Linked DNA regions of Homo sapiens. The protein of the gene in region 3 purifies or fractionates together with the protein of the main gene of each other region. This does not show direct contact. Each region holds a gene or a part of one and is shown on either strand. Other genes may lie near its edges.

What was found.
Region 1: the proteins of B3GAT2 (region 3) and ABHD12 purify together in Homo sapiens (affinity purification with mass spectrometry; one large-scale study listed by BioGRID and IntAct). This does not show direct contact.
Region 2: the proteins of B3GAT2 (region 3) and RMND1 purify together in Homo sapiens (affinity purification with mass spectrometry; one large-scale study listed by BioGRID and IntAct). This does not show direct contact.
Region 4: the proteins of B3GAT2 (region 3) and ITGA7 purify together in Homo sapiens (affinity purification with mass spectrometry; one large-scale study listed by BioGRID and IntAct). This does not show direct contact.
Region 5: the proteins of B3GAT2 (region 3) and LRP6 purify together in Homo sapiens (affinity purification with mass spectrometry; one large-scale study listed by BioGRID and IntAct). This does not show direct contact.
Region 6: the proteins of B3GAT2 (region 3) and FRAS1 purify together in Homo sapiens (affinity purification with mass spectrometry; one large-scale study listed by BioGRID and IntAct). This does not show direct contact.
Region 7: the proteins of B3GAT2 (region 3) and DNAJC11 purify together in Homo sapiens (affinity purification with mass spectrometry; one large-scale study listed by BioGRID and IntAct). This does not show direct contact.

Annotation. Positions count from the first base shown.
Region 1 is NC_000020.11:25,299,714-25,303,835, reverse strand, and holds the end of ABHD12 (lysophosphatidylserine lipase ABHD12), read left to right. Parts: intron 1-207; coding exon 208-286; coding exon of another isoform or gene 287-538; exon of another isoform or gene 539-1,489; coding exon 1,490-1,617; intron 1,618-2,457; coding exon of another isoform or gene 2,458-2,479; exon of another isoform or gene 2,480-2,504; intron 2,505-2,951; coding exon 2,952-2,991; 3' UTR 2,992-3,622; downstream 3,623-4,122.
Region 2 is NC_000006.12:151,414,127-151,417,626, reverse strand, and holds part of RMND1 (required for meiotic nuclear division protein 1 homolog), read left to right. Parts: intron 1-227; coding exon 228-348; intron 349-355; exon of another isoform or gene 356-546; intron 547-2,078; exon of another isoform or gene 2,079-2,209; intron 2,210-3,500. UniProt on the Homo sapiens protein: Required for mitochondrial translation, possibly by coordinating the assembly or maintenance of the mitochondrial ribosome.
Region 3 is NC_000006.12:70,950,561-70,954,060, reverse strand, and holds part of B3GAT2 (galactosylgalactosylxylosylprotein 3-beta-glucuronosyltransferase 2 precursor), read left to right. Parts: intron 1-3,500. UniProt on the Homo sapiens protein: Involved in the biosynthesis of L2/HNK-1 carbohydrate epitope on both glycolipids and glycoproteins.
Region 4 is NC_000012.12:55,701,405-55,704,904, reverse strand, and holds part of ITGA7 (integrin alpha-7 isoform 2 precursor), read left to right. Parts: intron 1-1,726; coding exon 1,727-1,854; intron 1,855-1,953; coding exon 1,954-2,033; intron 2,034-3,484; exon of another isoform or gene 3,485-3,488; coding exon of another isoform or gene 3,489-3,500. UniProt on the Homo sapiens protein: Integrin alpha-7/beta-1 is the primary laminin receptor on skeletal myoblasts and adult myofibers.
Region 5 is NC_000012.12:12,162,545-12,166,044, reverse strand, and holds part of LRP6 (low-density lipoprotein receptor-related protein 6 isoform b precursor), read left to right. Parts: intron 1-749; coding exon 750-966; intron 967-1,482; coding exon 1,483-1,772; intron 1,773-3,500. UniProt on the Homo sapiens protein: Component of the Wnt-Fzd-LRP5-LRP6 complex that triggers beta-catenin signaling through inducing aggregation of receptor-ligand complexes into ribosome-sized signalosomes.
Region 6 is NC_000004.12:78,448,823-78,452,322, forward strand, and holds part of FRAS1 (extracellular matrix organizing protein FRAS1 isoform 1 precursor), read left to right. Parts: intron 1-1,328; coding exon 1,329-1,517; intron 1,518-2,949; coding exon 2,950-3,069; intron 3,070-3,352; coding exon 3,353-3,500. UniProt on the Homo sapiens protein: Involved in extracellular matrix organization. Required for the regulation of epidermal-basement membrane adhesion responsible for proper organogenesis during embryonic development. Involved in brain organization and function.
Region 7 is NC_000001.11:6,653,317-6,656,816, reverse strand, and holds part of DNAJC11 (dnaJ homolog subfamily C member 11), read left to right. Parts: intron 1-2,777; coding exon 2,778-2,906; intron 2,907-3,500.

The DNA.
Region 1 (4,122 bases), on a different chromosome or scaffold from region 3:
CTGTGATTGACACCTGTCATCTAGCTGTAATAGATGTTCATAGAGATAATGAAGAGTTAACTTTCAGTTGTCTAGTAAAAAGAAATCCAGCAGAAATCAGGCTGTTTCCCAAAACACACCCTGAACCCAGATCCCTGCCATGGACAGAGGGTCTGGGCAACTCTGCCCTTTCCCTGGTCTTGGTCTAGCCCCTTCTCCCTCCTACAGCGTGAAGCACATCTCCTGTCCCCTGCTCATCCTGCACGCTGAGGACGACCCGGTGGTGCCCTTCCAGCTTGGCAGAAAGGTGGGTCCTGGCCTCTGCCTCTGGTGTAGCTGGCATCTTGCACACTCAGCCAGTGTGGGTGGACCAGGCTGGGAGTGGGCAGGCGGGAAGGCAGCCCCTGCATGCTGCATCACGGGCTGCGCACCAGCCACGTCAGGCTCAGGAGGCCACCTCATCCTCCCTGCGTCACCTCCAGGCTGCTTCGGAAGGACATGGGAGGTCTGGTGTAAAGGTTGGGGCAGGGGCCCACTGATGCTGTCTCCAAGAATATGAAAAATAAGCAGATAGTTCCCAGTCCTCACACAGGGGTTATCAGAGTGGGCTGCCTATGTTATCAGAGCCCAGGCCAACCTGGGAACTCAGCTGGAAGGGCTCATCAGTTATGGGCTGAAGGCAAAGAACCCCTTGATGAGGATCTCCCAAGCCCATTGCAGGGGTCACAGTCAAAATTGATAGAGAAACTTCTAGCCTGTTTCCTTGCCTTTGGAATTGCGCTGATACCAGAACCAGACCATGCTGTCTGTGGGGCCTCAGTGTTTGCTTTTGCTGAATTTGCTTTGACTGTCAGCAAGTTGGATTGGATTTGTGGCTCAGAGTAGGGTAAGAGAAGGCAGCCTGGGTCTTGGTAATGGCAGGGCAAACTAGTTGGGTGTGTGCAGGCCTCGTCCACGGATTCAGCCCAGGGCTGGGAGCACTTCCTGCTCTGACAGCCCCCATGCAGTCAGGCTCCATAAGGCACACAGATGACGGAGCCACACAGGGCAGGGGCAGAATGCAGAGCCGCCCAGCAGCGCACAGCTCAGGCCCACCTACCCTTGCCGAAATGAGAGGGGGAGGGGGCTGAGATGGGTACATCAAGCCCATCTTAGCTAAGCCTGAGGCACATACCTTTTGTCCCAGCTCCCCAAGACTGTGCCATCCCTGCCATCAGAGCCTCCCAGGCACCTGGTCTGGCTCATCCACCTAGCCACTCCCCAGAGGAAGGGTAGTCTATAAGGTGTGAGGACAGTATCTTGAGTGGTGTGTGCCCAGGAGCCAAGCCTGGGGCCTGGCTCCTCCCAGCCCACCCCCGGGCCTCCTGGTCGTGACCGGCTGTGGCAACAAGCAGTGTATGTGGGACTCTGGACTGGTTTCTATTGAAGGGGAGGCTGCCAAGCTGGTGTTCCTCAGGCTGGGACCCCCATGCCAGGCCACTGCCTCAGGCTCTGACCCCTCTCTCCCCAGCTCTATAGCATCGCCGCACCAGCTCGAAGCTTCCGAGATTTCAAAGTTCAGTTTGTGCCCTTTCATTCAGACCTTGGCTACAGGCACAAATACATTTACAAGAGCCCTGAGCTGCCACGGATACTGAGGTGAGACATTCTCTTCCCACCCAGGGGCTTCGTCTGGGCAGCACTGGCTCACACCTAACGTGCAGCAGGTGGCAGCTGCTGAAGCTGCTCAGGGGGCCTCAGTGGGGCCAAGAGTCACAGTGATTTGGGAGCCTTCCATTTCCTTGGCAGAGGGGTTTGAGGGAGTGCCTCTCTCCTGCTCCAGGACTGTTCACATGATCATGCAGGGTGAGCCGCCTCCATGTTGTAAAGGATGTACAGACCCACACGGGGGGGCACACACGCTCACAGGTGGCCATGTTTGGGAACACTCAGACACAGACACCCCAGCCACTTGCAGGCCTCGGATCTCTTCCACACACCTCTCAAGACGTACACAGCTCCTCAAAAGCCTCTTTGTCCCCAGCTGCTTCTTGAAGGGACGTGGTGCTCCTGACTGCCCTGCACTGGCAGGACATGGGCGCCAGCCCAGAGAGCCATGAGTACCCACCTGGGCCTGAGTGCAGAGCCCAAGCCTGAGGGTGAGGCCTTGGCAGTAGTGACAAGGGCAGTGTGTGGAATGGACCAACCCCCGGCCTCCTCTGTACTGCCCTGGGCCCTATGCAGGTTGCTGCCCAGACTCGCCTACCTGCCTGTCAGAGGACACAGGCCCCCACCCCACTGCCTGGCTGTGTGGCCTTGGGCAAGATGCTAACCCTCCCTGTGCATGGGACAAGGCTTCTGAGCCGAGGAGGGCATGTGGTACTTCGACCCTAAGCACTGGACCCACGGAGGGGCTGCTGCTAATGGTGATAGAGTTTTTTGTTGTGTTGTGCCAGTCAGCTCCAAAAAGTAGGTCAAGGTGCCAGTTTCTCCCTGCAGGGGACTGAAATTGGTGGCCTGAATTGCCTCCCAGTGCTGTATATCCCGTGAGTAATTCTACTGCAAACTTCTGCTTTTCTCCAGTTGCCTTTGGAAGTTCCAGAGGCAAAACTGTGTCCCTTTAGCACAGGTACCTGGGTTGCTAAGGGGGCAGTGGGCTCAGAGTATGGGTTTGCTTTGCGGTTATAATTTTCCCCATTATAAAAGGAAGATATGTGTAGAAAATTTAGACCAGAGAATAGCTCTGAAGTTGAGGGTCAAGAATCAGAGACCTTGTCTCCATGCCTGTGTGTTGGGCTTTGACTTGGCACCACACTGCTTGTTCCCTGCCTAACTCACTGAGTGCTGCTCTGGGCTACAGCGCATCCTCATGGGGCTCTTGGCTGCCTCCTCTCTGCACAGCCTCTGCTTCCTTAGATAGCAGTGTGAGGACTGTGGAGAAGGATCTTTGGTCTGAGCTCAAATGATTGGCTCCTGATTGTCCTGTGGTCTAGGGAATTCCTGGGGAAGTCGGAGCCTGAGCACCAGCACTGAGCCTGGCCGTGGGAAGGAAGCATGAAGACCTCTGCCCTCCTCCCGTTTTCCTCCAGTCAGCAGCCCGGTATCCTGAAGCCCCGGGGGGCCGGCACCTGCAATGCTCAGGAGCCCAGCTCGCACCTGGAGAGCACCTCAGATCCCAGGCGGGGAGGCCCCTGCAGGCCTGCAGTGCCCGGAGGCCTGAGCATGGCTGTGTGGAAAGCGTGGGTGGCAGGCATGTGGCTCTCCTTGCCGCCCCTCAACCTGAGATCTTGTTGGGAGACTTAATGGCAGCAGGCAGCCATCACTGCCTGCTTGATGCTGCACTGAGCTGGACAGGGGGAGTCCGGGCAGGGGACTCTTGGGGCTCGGGACCATGCTGAGCTTTTTGGCACCACCCACAGAGAACGTGGGGTCCAGGTTCTTTCTGCACCTTCCCAGCACATGCAGAATGACTCCAGTGGTTCCATCGTCCCCTCCTGCCCTGTGTACCTGCTTGCCTTTCTCAGCTGCCCCACCTCCCCTGGGCTGGCCCACTCACCCACAGTGGAAGTGCCCGGGATCTGCACTTCCTCCCCTTTCACCTACCTGTACACCTAACCTGGCCTTAGACTGAGCTTTATTTAAGAATAAAATCGTGGTGGTGGTCCTTTTGTCTCTCTGCAGCGCGAGAAGGGTCAATGTTGCCTCCTCCATGCCCCAGAGCCGCCCACAGCCTAGCCTCTAGCCGCTTTGGAGCCACTCCATGACTCAGCCTCAGACTATGAAATTTTCTAGTCCCAGCAGCTCAGAAATTTGCCAGGAGTAGGAAGTTTTGTTCACCTGCTCGCCCCTTTCTCCAAGTTGCAGTCCCAGCATCAGCAGCTGTGGGCTGGCAGGGAGCCCAGAGGTCCTCGCGGTTACACTCCTTCACTGGGGTACCCTGAGCTACCTATAGCGGTTCTCAGATCTACAAAACACTTTTCCTACGCAGGGGAGCAGCTGAGTAGACATTACTTCTGAGGTCAGTTCATGAGAACACTGGTCCCCCTCCTGGCCAGGGTGTGCCCCAGCTCCTGGTCCCTAATTAGGGTGTCATTTCTGTTCCACCCACCCACGGCCCCAGAGACACCACCTGCCCCAGGGTTGGGATCTCCTTGCATGGCCATC
Region 2 (3,500 bases), about 80 Mb from region 3:
TCCAGCTACATGGGAGGCTGAGGCAGGAGAACAGCTTGAGCCCAGGAGTTCAGTTTGCAGTGAGTTGTGATCACACCACTGCACTCCATCCCGGGTAACATAGCAAGACCCTCTCTCTTACCAAAAAAAAAAAAGTTTTCATAAAGCACTATGTAAATATTAAATACAATAGAAACAATGATTTTTAATTCAAGATAAATAAAAAGTTATAATTTTCCTTTTTAAAGGCACCGTATAAACTTGAGTTCAGACTTCCTGATTACTCCTGATTTCTACTGGGACAGAGAAAACCTGGAAGGACTTTACGATAAAACGTGTCAATTCCTTAGCATTGGCCGAAGAGTTAAGGTACGTATTTTGCACTTCTAATGAGAGAAAAAGACACGTTGTCGCCTATAAGTTGAATATGTTTAACTGCTTGCAGAGAAATATCTTGTTTGACTTCCATTCAAATCTCTTTATATTTCCCCTTCTTGTCCTCTGTACAGTCACTTCAATTTTTTGTGTCAAAGGATCTTCTGATATTAGCTCTACAGACTAGATAAGGTTGGTGAATAAGATGAGAGTTTGGAAGCCTAATGGTCCATCAGTAAGTTCTTGTCAAGTTTCAAGCAAGAGTTCATGACTGCTTCTGATCTGTCATGGTGACAGTGAGAATAGAAATAAATTTAAGAAAGAATCATGTAAGACAAATCAAGTGATGGGTAATAAGAGGCCATGGAGAAGAAAGAATAAAGGATGACTGATGTTTGCCTGGAGGTGACAAGTAGAAAGGTGGAAAAACAATAATGAGAGGTCAGAGAGGGGAGGTGACAGACTAAATCTAAGATATGCTGAGATTAGAGTAGCAACAAGATATCCAATTAGCTCCGTCATGCAGGCATTTAGAAGGGCAGAAGCAAAGTCGGGAAAAGAGACGTGTATTAAGAAATCCCAGCACTTTGGGAGGCTGAGGCGGATGGATCACCTGAGGTTGGGAGTTTGAGACCAGCCTGGCCAACATGGCGAAACCCTGTCTCTACTAAAAATACAAAAATTAGCCAGGCATGGTGGCATTCTCCTATAGTCCGAGCTACTCGAGAGGCTGAGGCAGGAGAATCACTTGAACCCAGGAGGTGGAGGTTGCAGTGAGCCAAGGTCGAGCCAGTGCACTCCAGCCTGGATGACAGAGTGAGACTCCGTCTCAAAAAAAAAAAAAAAAAAAAAGCTGTAGTGATGGAGGTAGACCACATGGGGAAAGAGCATAGAAAACAGAAAATTGACATTAGTACAATGTGTGCACATAGTTCTGTGACATTTTGCCACATCTATAGATCCATGCAACCACATGATCAAGACACAAAACTGTGCCAGGTGCGGTGGCTCATGCCTGTAACCCCAGCACTTTGTGAGGCTAGAGGTGGGCAGATCACTTGAGGTCAAGAGTTCGAGACCTGCCTGGCCAATATGGTAAAACGCTGTCTCTACTAAAAATACAAAAATTAGCTGGGTGTGGTGGCGCGTGCCTGTAGTCCCAGCTACTCGGGAGGCTGAGGCAGCAGAATCGCTTGAACCCAGGAAGTGGAGGTTGCAGTGAGCTGAGGTCATGCCATTGCACTCCAGCCTGGGCGTTGCAGCGAGACTCCATCTCAAAAAAAACAAAACAAAAAGACACAAAACTGTTTTATCACTTTTCCTCATGCTACCCTGTATAGTCACACTGCCCTCCCCCTACCCGGACTGTCCCTAACCCCTGGCAGTGAGTAATCTCTTCTCCATCTCCATAATTTTGTCATTTTGAGGATGTTATATAGATAGTCATACAGTATGTGACTTTTTTTTTTTTTTTTTTTTTGAGACGGAGTCTTGCTCTGTTGCCCAGGCTGGAGTGCAGTGGCTCAATCTTGGCTCATTGCAAGCTCTGCCTCCCGGGTTCACGCCATTCTCCTGCCTCAGCCTCCTGAGTAGGTGGGACTACAGGCACCCGCCACCAAGCCCAGCTAATTTTTTTTTGTATTTTTAGTAGAGATGGGGTTTCACTGTGTTTAGCCAGGATGGTCTCGATCTGTATGTGACTTTTTAACTGGCTTTTTTCACAGAGCATAATGCCCTCAACTTGGATCCATCCAAATTGTTGCTTGTATCAAAGTTCCTGTCTTCCTGTGGTTACTGAAACAATTTTTTGGTATTTCATTTTGATGTTACTTTTTAATATATCTCGTTGCATAGATATTTAGTAGTTGCTCTGGTTATTACATCTTACGTATATAACTTATTACAATCTACTGATTTCAACATCTTGCAGATTAAATGAAGTATAGAATCTTTATTTCCCTAATGGATGATTGGATGCAGAAAAAAAAAAAGAATTCTTATTTCTTTTATATTCCTTTACCCTTCCGTATTTATAATTTTCTTAACTATTCTTCTGCAGACATAGAAAACTTCATCAGATAATGTTATAATTTTTGCTTCAACCATCAAACATAATTTAGAAAACTAAGAAAAGCAAAGTCTGTTGTATGTGCCCATGTTTTTATTCTTTCTGTTCTTTTCTCCTTCTGATCTTCTAAGATTTCTTTTACTGTTTTTTTTTTTCAAGAACTTTATTTAGCCATTCTTTTAAGGTAAGTCTAGTGAGACAAATTCTCTTAGTTTGTCTTCATCTGAGAGTGTATTAATTTTCTCTTCATTCTTGCAGGATATTTTCCTAGAAATAGGATTCTAGGTAGACAGTTTTCTTTCTTTCAGCACCTGAAAAATGCCATGCCACTTCCTTCTGACCTCCATGGTTTCTGACGGAAATCTGCCATAATTCTATGACATCTACATTTTATCTTTTATTATCATTTCACAAGGTCTTTGAGGCTCTGTTCACTTCTTTTCCAGTATATTTTGTCTCTGTTAAGATTGGGTAATGTCCTTTGTTTCATCTTCTAGTTGATTGATTCCTTCCTCTGTTACATTCGTTCTGCTGCCCAACATTGAGTTTATTTCATTTATTATATTTTTCAGTTCTAAAATTTCCATGTTTTTTTATTTGTATCTTCTGTTTCTTTGCAGAGACTTCCTGCTTTTTCGTTTGTTTCAAATGTGTTCAGAATTGCTTGTTGAATCATTTTTATGATGGTTGCTCTAACATCATCTAATAATACCTAACCTCAGATACCTCTTGATATTAGTGTCTACTGATTGTCTTTTCTGATTCCCTCCAACTAATTTTAATACCTCCAGTTTCCCTCATTGCCTCAAGTGTTCTGGCTTGATATACAAGGTCCTTCCTATTGTTTCTGTTTTTCAATCATATTTCCTACCAATCCCCACATTCACCTTGTATCACATCAAAAATAAGTGATTAGCCTGGGAAACACAATGAGACCTCATTTCTACTAACCTTTTTTTTAAAAAAATTAGCCAGGTATAATGGCATGTGCCTGTAGTCTCAGCTACCCTGGGAGGTTGAGGCAGGAGGATTGCTTTAGCCCAGGAGTTTGAGGCTGCAGTGAGCCATGATCACGCCA
Region 3 (3,500 bases):
CTGTAGGAGGCTAGATTGTGAAGGAGGAATGATTTAGTTTATTCCGAGCTTCTAGCCTCTTGGTGTGAGGTGTTAGAAGAATTGGCACACGCAGGCAGTGAAATGATTCAGGACACAGCCTTCCTTTGATGCTTCCCAAACTGAAAGGAGGGTTTGTTGGTGGGGGATATTAAGCATCAGGAGAAAATTCCAGTAGGTTTTTCATTAGTCCATATGGGGGAAAATATAAAATGAGGAGAGGGTAAGGAGAAAAAAATAGTGTTGTCAGAGAGGACATTATAAAGGAAAAACGCAAAACTTTCAAGACACTAAACTTTTGTACAATTGGAAGTAATGCAATAAAATAAAATAAGAGCATATGCAACATTTTTTAATGGTGAGGTGCCACATATACAAAAAATACAACAGGTTTATTGTTTCTGTTGTCATTTTAAGCATAATAGGCATGACATACTTAGAATTTAAGTTTTCTATCTCCTGGAGGTCACTCCCAGACAGTAATTTTATGACTAGTACCTTTCTCTACCACTCCCCCACCAGCATTGTTTTTGGACAGATTAGGCCTTTGTTTGACATATATGTATGCTGATACATTCAGTTTTCTTTATTATAACATTTTCCATGCATGGCAAACATTATTGAATTCCATCATTAGGCTAGTGGAATTTATGAATTCTTAGTCTTGTGCATTTTCCAGAATTTGGAAATCCGTAGGTTTATTTGTGAGACAGCCTACCATACACCCGTTCTCAGATTAATGATTCCGTGTAAATTATAGTTTAGACATTGTTCTCTGGAGAAAACGTAGGACCAGATAAAACATTGAAAATCTACAGCTCCTTGGGGGAAAGCAAAGATGCTGATTAGGAATGCTATAGGGCTGAGGCATATATCTCAGCCCTTTATATTGTGCATGCACACCAATTAGTTTTTCAGTAATTCACAGTACTTAAGGAAAGAATACCCCAAGTCAGGTTTCATCTTTTATTCATGGTGCTTCTAATTTCCATGGTTGATGTTAAAGTGGATAAGATAAAAGGAGGAAAATGAACCACGTACAAATTAGCTCCGTAAGTATTGGCTGCAAATGAAGGAAAGCAAAGGATGAAAGGTCTCCAAATTAAATTAAAGACGCAACAGGCAATCTGTGTTCAATTATTCCTCCCTGGTAACTGGAATGGTGCTTTGTCATCTCATACAGCTAACTAATTTTCAGCCTTTCCTTTCAACTGATCTGCATTGCCAGGAAAGAAATATTTGCATTGAATACTCTTATGTTAACAGCCAAATCCATTTGCAAATGAAGTTTAGTGTGAATCTTAGCTACAGAAATGGGCCTGTTCATTGGAGAAGGAGGTGGTGGGGTTTTTCAGGTTTCAAAAATCTCAACAGCTACTCCTCTTCTTCCTGTGGCATTGATGGGGTTTTGCACTGTGGATCACAGGTAATCCTGCCTCCCTGTGCATCCTATCCATCTCCCTCTCTGGAAAAGCTTACTTGCAAAGGATTTAAGCTGCTTTAATAAAAGCCACAACTACAGATAAATGTGACTTTATTTTTAGTCATGTTTTCAATAACACTATTGATCAGATTTCTGTTTTTCACCAGAAAACCTTCAAAGCTTTCTTAAATTTAAAACAGATGCTTTTCAGGTGAAGTTGGTTTCACCTCTGGAAATCAATTGAATTGAAATACTAAAAAAAAATAGCACTTTCCAAGCAAGAAAAAAAAAAACTTTAGAAATTTTGAAGTTAATGAAATAAGACTGGAAGACAGGCTGGCTCTCAGACACTTAAGGGGTTATCAAAGGAGTCAGTGACTGAGATTGCATCTAGAAGATGTTTCTGGAAAGCAATGAACTAAAGAAGCCCCTTGCTTGAATCTTTTGTTGGGTGCTATTCAGCTATTTGTGTACTAGGCAGATAAAGGAGTTTTGAGGATTAATTCTGTCTTGCTTTTTTTTCAGAAGTATTTGTGTGCTTTCCCTCTTTACCTGCTGCTTATTGGAGTCATAATCTGAAGGATATACGAGTTTACAATGTTTGGCCCTTTCCCCCCTAAATAGTACTTCTATTTATGTTTCCTGAAAGGAAACATGAGATTTACCTTTTACCCTTGGTACATTTACTTTATTTAGGGTAATTCTTTTTAAAGTGAAGGAACCTAGAAGATTTTCTTGGGTGGAACATTAAAAGACCATTTTACCTGAAATGTGCCCCTTGTATTTTATTTCTTTCCCTCTGAAAGCTATTAAGAGTCATGCCATAGGTCTGATAAAATGTGAGAATTTTATAGAAATGTATATATGAAACTACAGCCAATTTTCTTAGGCTATAAATGTTAGGTTTTCTTTATTCTCCCTGGGTGTACAGTATTTGAATTATGGTTCGTTTTTGATAAGAGTTTTCTTTGGAGACCAGTAGTTTTCATTTGGATGTTGATATTTTAATGGACCAGAAATAACAATTTGGGCCTAAAGATGTTCTCCCTTCTGCCTCTTCCTATTGTCTTTTTCCATCATTCTTCCTCTCTCAACCTACTTTTCACTGATGATTCTGTCTCGTGAATAGACATGAAAACATGTTCGGATTATTGCTTGGTGCAATGAATGTTGTATCTTTTAAACATTTAGGCTGTTGCTGCTTCTTGGAAACCATTGTGGGTGGCTCCCTTTTTTCTGTCTACTCTGCTTGCCTCTAAATTACAAGCTGGTAAATTTTCTCTTGTGTGAACAGTAATGGAATAGTAATTGCTTTTAAGGCATGCTGCAAAAGCAAAATAGAAAATCCAAAGTCAATGGTCTTATTTATTAACTATTTCAGGTGGTATTCAAGTAGTGGTAGGTTTTTTGTTGTCGTCATTGTTTTTTGCACAGAATTCAATATTGTACAGATATGTCTATTTAAATGTTTTGGACTCTGGAATATTCAGCCTGTGTAAGTTAACACATATATATTTGATTCACAGTGCTTGTGAAGCATGAAATTTAAGTTTTGCATGGAGCTCAAATTCTCCCACCAAAATACAAATAAAATTGTTATACCAGTACATAGATAGATGCATAGGTAGGTTTAGAATACATCTCCAAAGCACAGAAATAAAACTAAGATAATTTGTTGTTCATGCCTGGTAATTTTTGCATACAATTTTAAATAAATGTTAATACCCTATATCATGGATACAAGCAAAATATAGTTGACATAAATTGAGCATTTACTATAGGCAAAGAAGTACCCTTAGGGTTTTACGTGTATTATTTAATCTTCATAACACCCTGAGGTAGGTAATAGTACTGTCTCTGTTTGTTTGCTGTTTTAATACTAATGCTAATATTTAGTTATGGACGCAGTCCCTTGGTGAGTACAGAGGACTTAAACAAATGCAACCTGACGGTAATATAGTTGTTTACCTCTGATCTATATAATCAGTATCCCCGTTTTTAACAGAAGCACTAGGAAGTAACTTGAAAATGTCATGTAGCTGTTATGTGGCAGAGATAG
Region 4 (3,500 bases), on a different chromosome or scaffold from region 3:
ACTTGCCTGAAGGTTGCCATTTATTTATGCAGGGCTGTATCACCCCGTTTCCTTTTCTGCCCAGGGTACCCTCATCTCCCCACTCTCTCCTTCCCTTTCTGGGGTGGTCTCAGTGTTCTAGAGACAGGTCAGTCACTGGGTGGAGTGACAAAGTGTTGGAGTTAGGCCCATGTGGATTTGAATTCCAGCATCACTGCTTAATGTCTTTGAGTGAGTTTTCTCATCTGAAAGACAAGAAAAGAATCCTTATCTCATAGGATTGTTCTGATGATTAAATGACATAATGCATGTGACTTGCCTATCCTGGTGCTTGGCACATATGTGGACAGTGATGAATGTTAGTTTCTTATATCCCTGGTGTCTAGCCTCGGATCTGACGTCATAGTAGGTGCTGAATAAATATGATTTCCTTGTCTCACCAGCGCCTGACACAGGGCTTGGCATACAATAGACTCTCAATAAGTAGTTGAATGCCAAATGTGTCTTCTCTTCTCTACTACTCCCTATACCCCTTCTCTGTCTTGACACTGGCTCTGACAAGGGATGGCAGCTGCTAAGAGATGAGGAGGAGTTGTGGGAAGGAAGAATGGCTCTCTGCCCTCCCCCTCCACCCCATCAGAGCTGGCACAGTGCCCCACAGATGCCTGTCTGTAATACTGCCTAACATGGTTTTGGGCCTTGCCCCCCAGGAAGGGAGATGGAGGAGAAGAGTGTGGGAGAGAGGCGTTGAGGTTTGTCCCACTGCCACTTCTGAGTCTCTCCTTCTGCAAAGAGAGGACCCATGGAGCCAGCTGGGTGTCAGTCATCTTACCTCACCCCCGCCTTCACTCTGGCTTGGGGGTTCAGCCCCAGGGGACCCAGGCAGCCTCCATTCCCAGCACTGTGCTCCCCTGGGGAAGACGGCTTGGCTGTGATCATGGAAAATTGTCCTGCCAAGAAAGTTGTAGCTGGGAAAGAGGCTGAGGGGGAGGCAGGAGAGAAGACTGGGTGGGGGTGGAAGGGAAGGAGAAATCATGGACATGGGGAGAAGGAAGGATGGGGAAGGGGATTCAGGATGTCGGGAAGAGAATGGGGTAGCATTGGAGGCAGAAGGAGAAACTTGTCCCTACCTCCATGCCAGCCAGAGTGACTGATGGAATCCTGGGCTGGCACAGCTTCTGGGAGGTGGGGTCTTTGCTGGGTCCCTGATGAGGGGGCAGTGGGTCCGTATCTAGCCTCTTGCCTGGCCTCTGAAGCTGGTCCCTGAGCCACACTCTGATGCCAGTCTGGGGCCCTGTTACTTTTGCTCCCAGCATTCTTGGCATTTCTGGCTGGGTTTCAACTGGACTGGGTTGGGGAGCAGGGCAGAGCTTGGGGATGGGGCCAAGGAGGGGATAGGGAAGGCCTACTCAGGAACAGGTGCTGGGAACAGGCAGTTCTTTCAAACCAGCACTGTTGGCCTGGCTGCTTGGGTTGGCGTGTATGTGTGTGTGTGTGTGTGTGTGTGTATCTACTGTGTATGTTGATCCCTTATCCAGATAGTATGTACATGCAACGTGATGACTGCATGACCAAGCATATTAATTTGTCCTTGCCAGGGTTTGAGAAAACTGACATTTGCCCCTTCTCTTTAGTCCTTGAACACTCTCTTTAGTACTGAGGGGTTGGGCCTGGGCAGCTCTAATGAGATTGGGTCATTCTGACCTCTAACTCCTGTCCCTGTCCCTGCCCCTGCCCCATCTTGCAGGCTGCTGGTGGGTGCTCCCCAGGCCCTGGCTCTTCCTGGGCAGCAGGCGAATCGCACTGGAGGCCTCTTCGCTTGCCCGTTGAGCCTGGAGGAGACTGACTGCTACAGAGTGGACATCGACCAGGGAGGTGTGGCCCTGCATGAACAGAGTGGGGGAAGCGTGTGAGCGGGGAGGAGAGGACTTGGGCTCCTCTTCCCTCCCCTAATTCCCAGTGTCCTGCCTCTAGCTGATATGCAAAAGGAAAGCAAGGAGAACCAGTGGTTGGGAGTCAGTGTTCGGAGCCAGGGGCCTGGGGGCAAGATTGTTGTGAGTATTGCTTCTCATGACTGAATGCACGGATGGGGTGTGTGTGTGTGTGTGTTTATGGTGTGTGCATACGCATAGGTGTGCTTAGAGAACACAAGTTAGGAATATGGTATGATTCCAAGTACATCAGGGAGATATAAAAAGGTGTGAGACATGGTCCTTGTCCTTATAAATGTAAAAATGTCTGTCCATTCATTCATCCATCCATTTGTCAAACTCTTACTGAGAACCTTTTAAGCATCAGGCATTGTGCTAGTTACTACAGGGGAAGGCTCATGCCTGTAATCCCAGCACTTTCGGAGGCCGAGGCAGGTGGATCACCTGAGGTCAGGAGTTCGAGACCAGCCGGACCAACATGGCGAAACCCTGTCTCTCCTAAAAATACAAAAAAATTAGCCGGGCGTGGCCGGGTGCGGTGGCTCACGCTTGTAATCCCAGCACTTTGGGAGGCCGAGGTGGGTGGATCACGAGGTAAGGAGATCGAGACCATGGTGAAACCCCGTCTCTACTAAAAACACAAAAAATTAGCCGGGCGTGGTGGCGGGCGCCTGTAGTCCCAGCTACTCAGAGAGGCTGAGGCAGGAGAATGGCGTGAACCGGAGAGGCGGAGCTTGCAGTGAGCTGAGATCGCGCCACTGCGCTCCAGCCTGGGTGACAGAGCGAGACTCCGTCTCAAAAAAAAAAAAAAATTAGCTAGGTGTGGTGGCAGGCGCCTGTAATCCCAGGTACTCGGGAGGCTGAGGTAGGAGAATCACTTGAACCTGGGTGGAGGAGGTTGCAGTGAGCTGAGATCGCACCATTGTACCCTAGCCTGGGAGACAAGAGCAAAGTTCCGTCTCAAAACCAACCAAACAAACAAACGAAAAAACCAGAGCTCTCTGTTTCTCTCTCTCTCTCTATCTTTCAGTAACACGCATAGATACACAATTACCAATACAGATCACTGTGGGGCAGAATCTGGTTCATGTTAAGTGAGTGGTCTAGTCTCCAGTCTATAAAAGTCCAAAGGAGGAGTAGAGAGAAGACTTCTGCAGAGGGGATGATTTGAGCCAGGCTTTAATAATAGGTAATACCTAGCCTGTGCAACATAGTGGGACCTCATCTTTATAAAAAATAAAAACAAATTAGCCAGTCATGGTGGTGCATGCCTGTAGTCCCAGCTACACAGGAGGCTGAGGTGGGAGGATCACTTGAGCCCTGGAGGTCGAGGCTGCAGTGAGCCATGATTGTGCCACTGCACTCCAGCCTGGGTGACAGAGTGAGACCTTGCTTCAAAAAAAAAAAAAAAGTAATACTTGGAGAGTGAAGCGGACAGGAAGTTCTTTGCAGATGAGATGGTGACACTTACAAAGGTCCAGGGACAGGGCCAAGCTTGGCATTTTGGAGGACTGTGACATGATCAGGGAGACACACATCCTATGTGGTGGCTTAATTGTGTCTTTTGGCTCCAGGCAGAATGTGGAACAA
Region 5 (3,500 bases), on a different chromosome or scaffold from region 3:
TCCCAAGTAAGTCAACACTGAATAGTGCATGGTGAATGCACTGTGAATACAGTATGAATGCCAGAGTGAATTTAATAATGTTACTATTAGGTAGTTGGAAAGAGAAGGTACATCCTAGTTTCTTGAAACTTAGATGCAGAGAGGGTGTCATATAATCCCGATACTTTTGTGATTATAATCTCAGAGGAATGAGAGATTTATTGAGATCCCTTTTATCTGTTTTTTGTTGTTACTGACAACAACAACAAAATAAAAAGCATGCTAAGTGGAAAAAGTCCTGAAAAAGACATCAACTGTGTTTACAAGCTCTGTGACCTTACATGAATCTCAGTTTCCATAGGCAAAGCTCTCAAGATAAAATAAAAGATGTTATAAAACAAAATATATGATAAAATAATGTATATGAAGGTACATTATAATTTGAAAACAAATGTGCAAACTTAAGGTGATGATACTGTATTTTTAATTTTGCCACAATTGTTTAATAGAAGAGTTGCATAATCTAAAGTTGCCAGAATTTTTAGAAGGAAGAGTAATATGAGATTGGGGGGAAAAGTGGTCAAATAGAGGCTTATATGGAAAATTTGAAATCATTTTTATAAAATCATCATGTAATTTTGAGAAAGCATTGTAATAGGAATACCAAGATGACTCTTGGATTTTTATACAACAGGCAGTTGGATTTGTTATTTTTAGCTGAAGAATAAATGCATAATTCATCCCCTTCTCTTTTGAATTTAAACCTGAAGGTTATGAATACTGATGGCACTGGGAGACGAGTACTAGTGGAAGACAAAATTCCTCACATATTTGGATTTACTTTGTTGGGTGACTATGTTTACTGGACTGACTGGCAGAGGCGTAGCATTGAAAGAGTTCATAAACGAAGTGCAGAGAGGGAAGTGATCATAGATCAGCTGCCTGACCTCATGGGCCTAAAGGCTACAAATGTTCATCGAGTGATTGGTGAGTAACTCCAAAGCTTTCTTAGAAATGGGAACCAGGAATGAAAAAAGATGGAGATAGTCAGCAGTGTAAATTATTGATGTTTTGAGGCAATTTTGAAACCTTCTTTACTGCCCCCCCGCCTTTTTTTTTTTTTTTTTTTTTTTTTTTTTTTTTTTTACTGAGAAGGGACCTTTTAAACGTTGACTTACTACTCTAGCTACCCAGTTTGAATTGAAGGGCTGAATACACATGCACAGGCACACCTTCATCAAAAGAATTCAGTCTGATAGTATGAATAATATACCTTACTTTAAAGCTTACTGTGGTATTAAAGGAAAATACTTCACCATGCTTTTACTCCCTATTAATCTGCATATTACTTGTTTGTGATATTAGAATTGAAACTTGAGATTGGGAGCAAGACATAATCATAGGCATTTGTGAACCAAACGCTTAAGTAATTTAAAAGTGAAAATATGTTGAATGTATCAATGTGTGTGTCCTTCTGTGCCCCTTTTATAATTAATCTTTTAGGTTCCAACCCCTGTGCTGAGGAAAACGGGGGATGTAGCCATCTCTGCCTCTATAGACCTCAGGGCCTTCGCTGTGCTTGCCCTATTGGCTTTGAACTCATCAGTGACATGAAGACCTGCATTGTCCCAGAGGCTTTCCTTTTGTTTTCACGGAGAGCAGATATCAGACGAATTTCTCTGGAAACAAACAATAATAATGTGGCTATTCCACTCACTGGTGTCAAAGAAGCTTCTGCTTTGGATTTTGATGTGACAGACAACCGAATTTATTGGACTGATATATCACTCAAGGTTAGCAAAAGAATTGGAATATTAAAGCTAGGGACTAAAAGGGAGAACTTCTAGAATTTCTGAATCTTCATGCTGTGACCCACCTCCCTCATTGTTTGACAGGCAGAGTTCAACAAAAACCCTCAAGTTTTTTTTTTTTTTTTTAAACGGTGTCTTGCTCTGTCACCCAGGCTGGAGTGCAGTGGTGCAGTCTCGGCTCACTGCAACCCCTGCCTCCCAGGTTCAAGCGATTCTCCTGCTTCAGCCTCCCGAGCAGCTAGGACTACAGGTGCGTGCCACGACGCCCAGCTAATTTTTGTATTTTTAGTAGTGACGGGGTTTCACCATGTTGGCCAGGCCGCTCGAACTCTTGACCTCGTGATCCGCCCGCTTCGTCCTCCCAAAGTGCTGGGATTACAGGCGTGAGCCACCGCGCCCAGCCAAAACCCTTAAGTTTTTAAGTGAAGGGAAAGGCCCATTCAGTATTTTATTAGATGCTTTTTAATACAGATACTTTGCCAGAGTGTTTTAAATCTGCAAGCCATAGTCTTCCTCTACTTTCTTCCATTTGAAAATGATGAATGACATTTTCTGCAATTAGCTGAGTAAGGAAATGTGTGCTTCACGTAAAATGGCTGTTGATTTACTTTAAAAAAAAATTCGTGATTTACTTTAAACAAAATTTTAGGGCCTGACTGAGGCGGAAAAGGCCAACAATGAGTTATTCTTTATTTTCTTCTTCCTAGAATAGTTACTGAAAAGAATACCAGGATAGCCAGAGAGGAAGCTCCCAACCTATAAATCTGAAGAATAATCTTTTCTTCTTCCAGATTGTTTTGGGCTTGTTTCAGATAACTCATGTAAACTTTTTTGTAATATGCGAAAACATGGGGTGTTGGAGTCAGAGTTGGATTCTAATGGTGTTCAGTTAAATTTATTAAGTGAATAAATGAAATAAATAAATTTTGGTTTGCATTGGGTGATGTTCTAAATTTCCTCATCTTGAAAATGGGGGGTGGCTGGGTGCGGTGACTCAGGCCTGTAAATCCCAGCACTTTGGGAGGCTGAGGCACATGGATCACCTGAGGTCACGAGTTTGAGAACAGCCTGGCCAACATGACAAAACCCCGTCTCTACTAAAAATACAAAAATTAGCTGGTCATGGTGGCGCATACCTGTAATCCCAGCTACTCGGGAAACTGAGGCACGAGAATCACTTGAACCTGGGAGGCAGAAGTTGCAGTGAGCCGAGATCATGCCACTGCACTCCAGCCTGGGTGACAGAGTGAGACTCTGTCTCAAAAACATAAAATAGGGGTGATGCCATACTTGCAGGACTGTTGTATTAAGTGACAAAATCTACGGACAAAACGTACTTAGGATAATACTTGATAAGATGTATCTATTATTAGTTTGAATTATGATTTTTAAAAGTGTTATGGGACTCAGTGCTATAATGGTAGTATAATGGTTACATTCATTTATATGGTAGGCATGATGACTTGCCATAATCTTAAGCACCTTTAGAAAATTGACCACTAATTAAGATCTGTAGCATTGTGGTCACAGCTTTTCCACTTGATTACTGATAAATTTTAAAAGTAAAGTCATTCTGCTGTTAGTAGAATAAATTTTTGGTGCATTAGAGTTTTAAAATTTCTCCCCTGAATTGGCAGTAAAACTTGAAGTTGCATTTATTAGAGATTGACATCAAATTTTTCTGTGCTTGCAAGTTATGTGAATTTTAAT
Region 6 (3,500 bases), on a different chromosome or scaffold from region 3:
CTCATGTTTAAGCAACATTGGAGGACCTGTGACAAGTGTGAGTCTTGAACAGTTTGCAGTAGGAAGTTACTTAATTAAGAAGTGGACCTTTTGCCCAGGGTGTCTGCATCTTACTAGAGTTCTGTTGTTTGTTTGTTCTTAGTTTCATGTGTATTTTGCAGTGAAAAATGTATGGTATAATAGTATTGGAAAACTTGGTAGTTCTCAAAGGTCTTAAATATCAAGTCTGAGATTTGACTTTATCCTACTTATAAGCTAATAAACTATCCTGTTACTGTTTCATGGATGCTGGTAGAAGATACAAGATTCCTCCATCAGAAATACGGCACTCTTGTTACTTATAGCACAGCAGGCAGCATGGGCATCAGCAGGTTTGCATCGGCTCCCTCTGCCATCCCAGTCCCATAGGGGTGATGTAGAGGGCCCAGACAGACACTTTCGTGTGCAGTAGGATGCATCACAGAGGGGAATACTGAGCTTGGGGAATTCTCCATGTTACAGCAGCAGAATGCAAGTCTTATTTTTGTCTGAGAGGAAGACATTACCTCATCCCTCAAGGTTGCTCTCTGAGAAACGGCCTGGGTAAAGCATGGTCAGGGTCTTGTGTTCTTGGTATTACCCACTAAGAACATGTCACTCCAAACACCAGGATGTATTATGCATGAATAACTAGGCTCTACTTTACCGGGATTTACTATTTTTAACATGATAAAGCGGCTGGGTAATAAAGCAAGTGACAAGACCCTGAGAAGAGGAGTTTGCCATTAGCCAGGGCCTTATCTTCATCCCCAACACCTGCGCAGTGTCCAGGGCCCAGAGGCTCAGATCTCCTTGCTCCTAACATCCTCTGTCCTGAAGGATGCTGATTTTCACTACTTTGTCTGACATGGCAACAAGATATGTTTGAGTTTATGTAAAGCTATATTTTTCTGATTTGGTGATTCTCAAGACAGTAAGTAAACTAAATCCAAGCAGGTTTCATCATAGATCTAGGAGTTATTTTTGTCACAGAACTGGGAGTTATTCCACAGATCTAGGTATTAACTGGTAGGTCACTGAGTCGGAGGAGCATAGGAGAGAATGAAAATGGATCAGAAGGAAAAAAGTGCTTAGGTGTTGACTCAAGGGAAAATTAGTAAATTGAAATGTCGGTACTCTTTCACTAGGGAAATTATAATTTATTCAGCTGGAAACTGAGAAGGGCAAGTGCCTGGTACCTAGATCCAATGAATATGTGATAATTTAGCCTCCAGTCTCCTAAAATCATTTGACATCCCGTTCAAAGGAAATGTTGGGGAATAACCTACTCTCTTCCGTTCTCTTCCAAGGGTCTGTAGCACGCATCACAGAACAGCACTTGAAAGTGACAGATATTGACTCAGATGACCATCAGGTTATGTACATCATGAAGGAAGATCCTGGTGCAGGGCGCCTGCAGATGATGAAGCATGGCAACCTGGAGCAAATTTCTATTAAAGGCCCCATCCGAAGTTTCACCCAGGCAGACATTAGCCAAGGTCAGCCAGTTCTCTTCTGCCTACCAGGCTTCCGTGGACTGCACCTACACTAGTAAAATGAGAATTAAATATCTGGTAGTCTATGGCAATAAACTGTGCACTCTTTGTTTTGAGGAGCTTCATTTGTTCTCTTCCTTGTTTTCTTATTTTTTTTTTCTTTTTGTTTTTAAAAAAGCCCTATCTTTCTTGGTTGAAATGTGTTCATGCTTTGACTTAGCATTGGTGGCATTTGCAGCTATTTTGGAGAGAAAAAGTTATTTTGACTTGCTGTGATGCTAAAAAGTATATATGAGAGAGAGAGAAGGAAAAAAGAAGTGAGTTGGGATGGATTAAGGTGAAAATTATGCCTTCCTTAGGTGAGCAATTTATATCTCTTTTCAGCTCCCCAAAGAGCACAAGTTAATGAACTAAGCAAAATGGAAGGGCATAAATCGGAGCTGCCTAGGGGAAATTACATGGCACATCCCTCCATCAGGAAATGCTGATGTAATGTAAAGGCATAAATGTTAAATGCTACGTAGTTACTGTACAGTGCTTTCAGGGATACAAAAGGGAAAAAAAGTTATATATTGGGGAAAACGTAATCCACAGTCTTGTGATTATGTGCAATTCTGTTTAGAAGTGGAAATATACCCCTGCGGATAAAAAACAAGTGTCCCGCCCACACACTAACACCTAAAATTGACAACAGCTGAATTCTCATTGGAACTGGCTGTGCTTTAGTGAAGGGGAGTGGAAGAGGCAAAAGGAAAGTAATTCCTTAATTATTTCATATGTCGGTGTCTACTTTTAAAAGATAAGACCAGCCCCCTCTTCCCAGAGATTTGGTTATATTTACACAACCAAATTGAAAGATGCTTTTAAGTGATGCTGTAGGTTAACAAAAATGTAATACATTTTTGTTGTACTTCTCCTTTTAGATCCTTTTGAGTTCTATGTGGAGTTTATTTGTTGGTTGGCTATAGCCCATGTTGCTCCGTGAACTGGGCAATGAAAAGTGAAGAGTTCTGGGAGAATGTGAGGTGCAGCTCTGTGTCTTCTTGCCCTTGTGATTCCAATATATAATAGGGTCACTCCAGGTGATGTGGGTGTGGTCAGTGCACATTTACACATGGGCAGTTTTGTGGATCTCGTTTTCATGAGGTGTCCTTAGAGGCTGAGCTGATCTTCCAAAAAGGCTCAGCCTTAACCATGAGAAATGTCACTTGGGGTGATTTTGTTATGAGAAGGTCTTTGGTTATGAGAAAGTAGATGGTGGGAGAGGAAAAGGAGGAAATGAAAACTTTAGATTAAAATGTCAAAAGCAGTGTCAAAGCGAGGAAGGTGTGAACTGATTCATTGGTGTGAACACCAATTGAATTCACACCTCTTGCTTCAGAAATAAGGGCAGAAAGCACTAATAGCAAATCTTGATTTTTTTTCCTTTTTATAGGCCACGTAGAATATAGTCATGGAACAGGAGAACCTGGAGGGAGCTTTGCTTTTAAATTTGATGTGGTTGATGGAGAAGGCAACAGATTGATTGACAAGTCATTTTCCATCAGCATTCTAGGTAAAGAGACATTTGATTTTCTAATATAAAACTATTTTAGCAGTTCTGAGGTTATATAGTTTACACTTTGTTCACCTCGAGGCTCGAGTCCTTCCCTTTACCTAGCTGGTGTGGAAACTGAAAATCATACCCCCTTTATTGCACGAAGCCCTGGCTCCTTGGTGTGCTCTCTAACACACAGGCCTAGAGATGACTCTGACCTTACTTCTTGGCACCAGGCCTAGAATTAAAGAAAGGAGGCTGAGAAGATCCCATTTCAAATCACTATTTCTGATATTTTCAGAAGACAAATCCCCACCAGTCATCACCACCAATAAAGGACTGGTCTTGGATGAAAACTCAGTGAAGAAAATCACCACCCTGCAGCTGTCTGCCACTGACCAGGACAGTGGGCCTACAGAATTGATCTACAGAATCACCAGACAGCCCCA
Region 7 (3,500 bases), on a different chromosome or scaffold from region 3:
CCAGTGGAATCCTCCCAGTCTCCTAGGTGACTGGGACCACAGGCGGATACCACCACTCCCAGCTAAACTTTTTTTTTTTTTTTTTGGTTTTAGTTTTTTTTGTGGAGACAGAGTCTCAACATGTTGCCTAGGCTGGTCTCGAACTCCTGGGCTCAAGCAATCCCTCCACCTCAGCCTCCCAAAGTACTGGGATTGCAGGAGTGAGCCACAGCACTCAGCTGAAATTTTTGACACATTTAATTGATTCATCTCTGTATATCATATTTTTAATTTAGAAAATATTCTCTCAATTCTAAATTTCTTCATATTAGAACATAAAAATATCTTGGCCCAAGTATTTTGACAGGTATTGTCTTTTTAACTTTATTCACAACAGTTTTCTTTGACACATTTTTCTAAATCATCTTTATTTATGATCTTTTGAATGTTTTATCAAATTTAGATGCTATAAAACTGTAGACCTTTTCAATTCCATTTCATTCTTGAACAGAATATAAATTTACCTAATTAAACATGACAGCTCCACCAAGATTCCTACACAAAATAAAGATACTCCAAAATGCCGTTATGGAATTTCAAAATTGTATCTCATTATATCTCATAAACTCTTATTTATTTTGTATGGTTTTTTTCCCCCTAAAAAGATCAGCTTCAGATTATTTTTCATTACAAGCTTTATTTTCAGTGATTGTAATTTTTTTTTTTTTTTTTTTTTTAGACGGAGTCTTGTTCTGTTGCCCAGGCTGGAGTGCAGTGGCACAATCTTGGCTCACTGCAACCTCTGCCTCACAAGTTGAAGCAATTCTCCTGCCTCAGCCTCCTGAGGAGCTGGGATTATAGGTGCGCACCACCACGCCCGGCTAATTTTTGTATTTTTAGTAGAGATGGGGTTTCACCATGTTGGTCATGTTGGTCTCAAACTCCTGACTTCGTGAGCCGCCTGCCTCGGCCTCCCAAAGTGCTGGGATTACAGGCATGAGCCACCACACCCGGCCTGTTCTTGTTTTTGAGACAGAGTCTTGCTCTGTCACCCATGCTGGAGTGCAGTGGCGCAATCTTGGCTCACTGAAACCTCCACCTTTCAGGTTCAAGCAGTTCTCCTGCCTCAGCCTCTAGAGTAGCTGGGACGTGTACCTGGCTAATTTTTGTATTTTTAGTAGCAACAGGGTTTCTACCACGTTGGCCAGGCTGGTCTCGAACTCCTGACCTCAGGTGATCCCACTCCCTCAGCCTCCCAAAGTGTTGGGATTACGGGTATTAGCCACCACACCTGGCCACAGATTGTTCATATACTGCCATGCAGTTTTGTTGATTATTCAGAATCATCATCATGACAGAGATGTGTTCATGCTGTTACTCTGTGAATATAAAAAATTTGTAAATTTTGGCAACTACAACTTCATTTTCCATGGGTAGAATACCACAGCTTGTTTTGACACAATTATGCATTATGCGTATCACTACAACTAATTCTAAGGATGTTTCTAGTCCATGGGTTTCTTGATTTAATAAGAAAATTTTTTACCATAACACTATACTGCCTCCAAGTTGGTATTTGAATATCACCGCAAAAACAAACACGTTTACCTTTAATGTGGAACTTTTTGATTGAGTTTATAGTAGCATTCATAATGTCAGGTGTTTCACCCTCAACAGAAATCAAGTAATTATTAGGGTTAATGCATTTTCAGATTGAAGCATCTGATAGAAAGCTAGCACCAGCTGGGCGCGGTGGCTCACACCTGTAATCTCAGCACTTTGGGAGGCCGAGGCGAGTGGATCATGAGGTCAAGAGATCGAGACCATCCTGGTCAACATGGTGAAACCCTGTCTCTACTAAAAATACAAAAATTAACTGGGCATGGTGGCGTGCGCCTGTAGTCCCAGCTACTCGGGAGACTAAGGCAGGAGAATCGCTTGAACCCAGGAGGCGGAGGTTGCAGTGAGCCAAGATCGTGCCACTGCACTGCACTGGACTAATGGCTAATGTTGCCTGGTGACAGAGCGAGACTCCATCTCAAAAAAAAAAAAAAAAGAAAAGCTAGCAAAAAAACATTGTTTCAATGGGCTGCAAAAAGTTTAGTTAAAAAAATGTGTGTGGCCATGGTTTTATATACTGGATTAAGATAATGTCCGTTTTTAAAGTTGTGACTATCAAAGAATAATAAACATTGATTTTCTGAGTAACAAGCATTTTTATCAGCAAAATTTTAGCTTAGAATTCCTTGAGCAAATACAGTGTTCTGTTTCTCAAACTTAATTCTCATTAATTTGAGAAGGTGGATTAATTTTAAAGTCTCCCATTTGTTCATAATTTGTGCTGCTTTATCTTTGAAGGTATTTTTATTTAAAGAGTTTTAGGGTAGTTTTGTGGTATAAGGTTGTTTACCAAAAAATGTTTAATCCATGTAGCTCATTTCTAGGTGGTTTTGTGCATTCTTGGGTCCTGTTTGGTCTCTGAAAATCAAACTGTCTAGCTCTTACTCCTTTGACTAACACTTTTGTCTTTGGCGTGTCATTGCTCTGCAGACATGCGGACCGGCTCTCCTGGTCAAATGATGTTTTCTAGCTCTGGACGTCTGTGGTGCTCTGCAGTTTGGTTCGGACTGTGACATTCATGCTTTGTGGGCTTCCTGGTGGAGTGTCCTACCTAAACCCAGTGAACCCTGAAGTCAAATGACTTGTTCAATTAAAGCGAGCTGGCTGTTGAAGTGTAGCATTGTCTTTCATTCCACAAATACCACCCGTTCTGCTGACGGCTTGTTTTTCTGCCCCAGGGAACGATCAGCGTTGGAGTAGATGCCACCGACCTTTTTGATCGCTATGATGAGGAGTATGAAGATGTGTCCGGCAGTAGCTTTCCGCAGATTGAAATTAATAAAATGCACATATCCCAGTCCATTGAGGTAAAGCACACAACCACCTCTCCGAGTACAGCAAGGGCTCGAGTTAATGAGGCACAGCACACCAAGCAGCTGGAATGAGAGTCTGCCCAGGGTTTTTCTCATCTTTATTTATGAAAGGATGCAATTAGCCACTTAAAAAAGAAAGCGCTTCATTCCCAGCCGTGTGTTACCGCTGTGCTGGCATGTGAGCCAGCAGGAGTGTGGGCTGGGGCACTTGGCTCCCAAGGTCTTGGGCCTTTCCAGCAGAGGGTGTTAATGGTCTGGGAGAAGTAGAGGCCCAAGGTCATGGGGTTCTGGGAGAGAAAGCAGACCTCCATGGATCATTCTAACAACCAGTTTTAGTTTTAAGGCAAATTCTGCTAGGTGCCGCAAGGCTATAGCAGCTCTCATCCTGAGCCCTGGGCACGCGAAAATGTCACCATTCTGCCCACTATTTGGATGTGACGAGGTCAGGTCATTCTCCTGAGCGTTTATAGTAGGTCTTTGTCTCCTCAGCTCATTAATTTATTCTCCATTGCATCAGCCAACAACGTGGAGTCCTAACTTGGGGAAATTTGCCCCCTCTTGGAGCTCCCTGAGTCAGTTGATACAGAA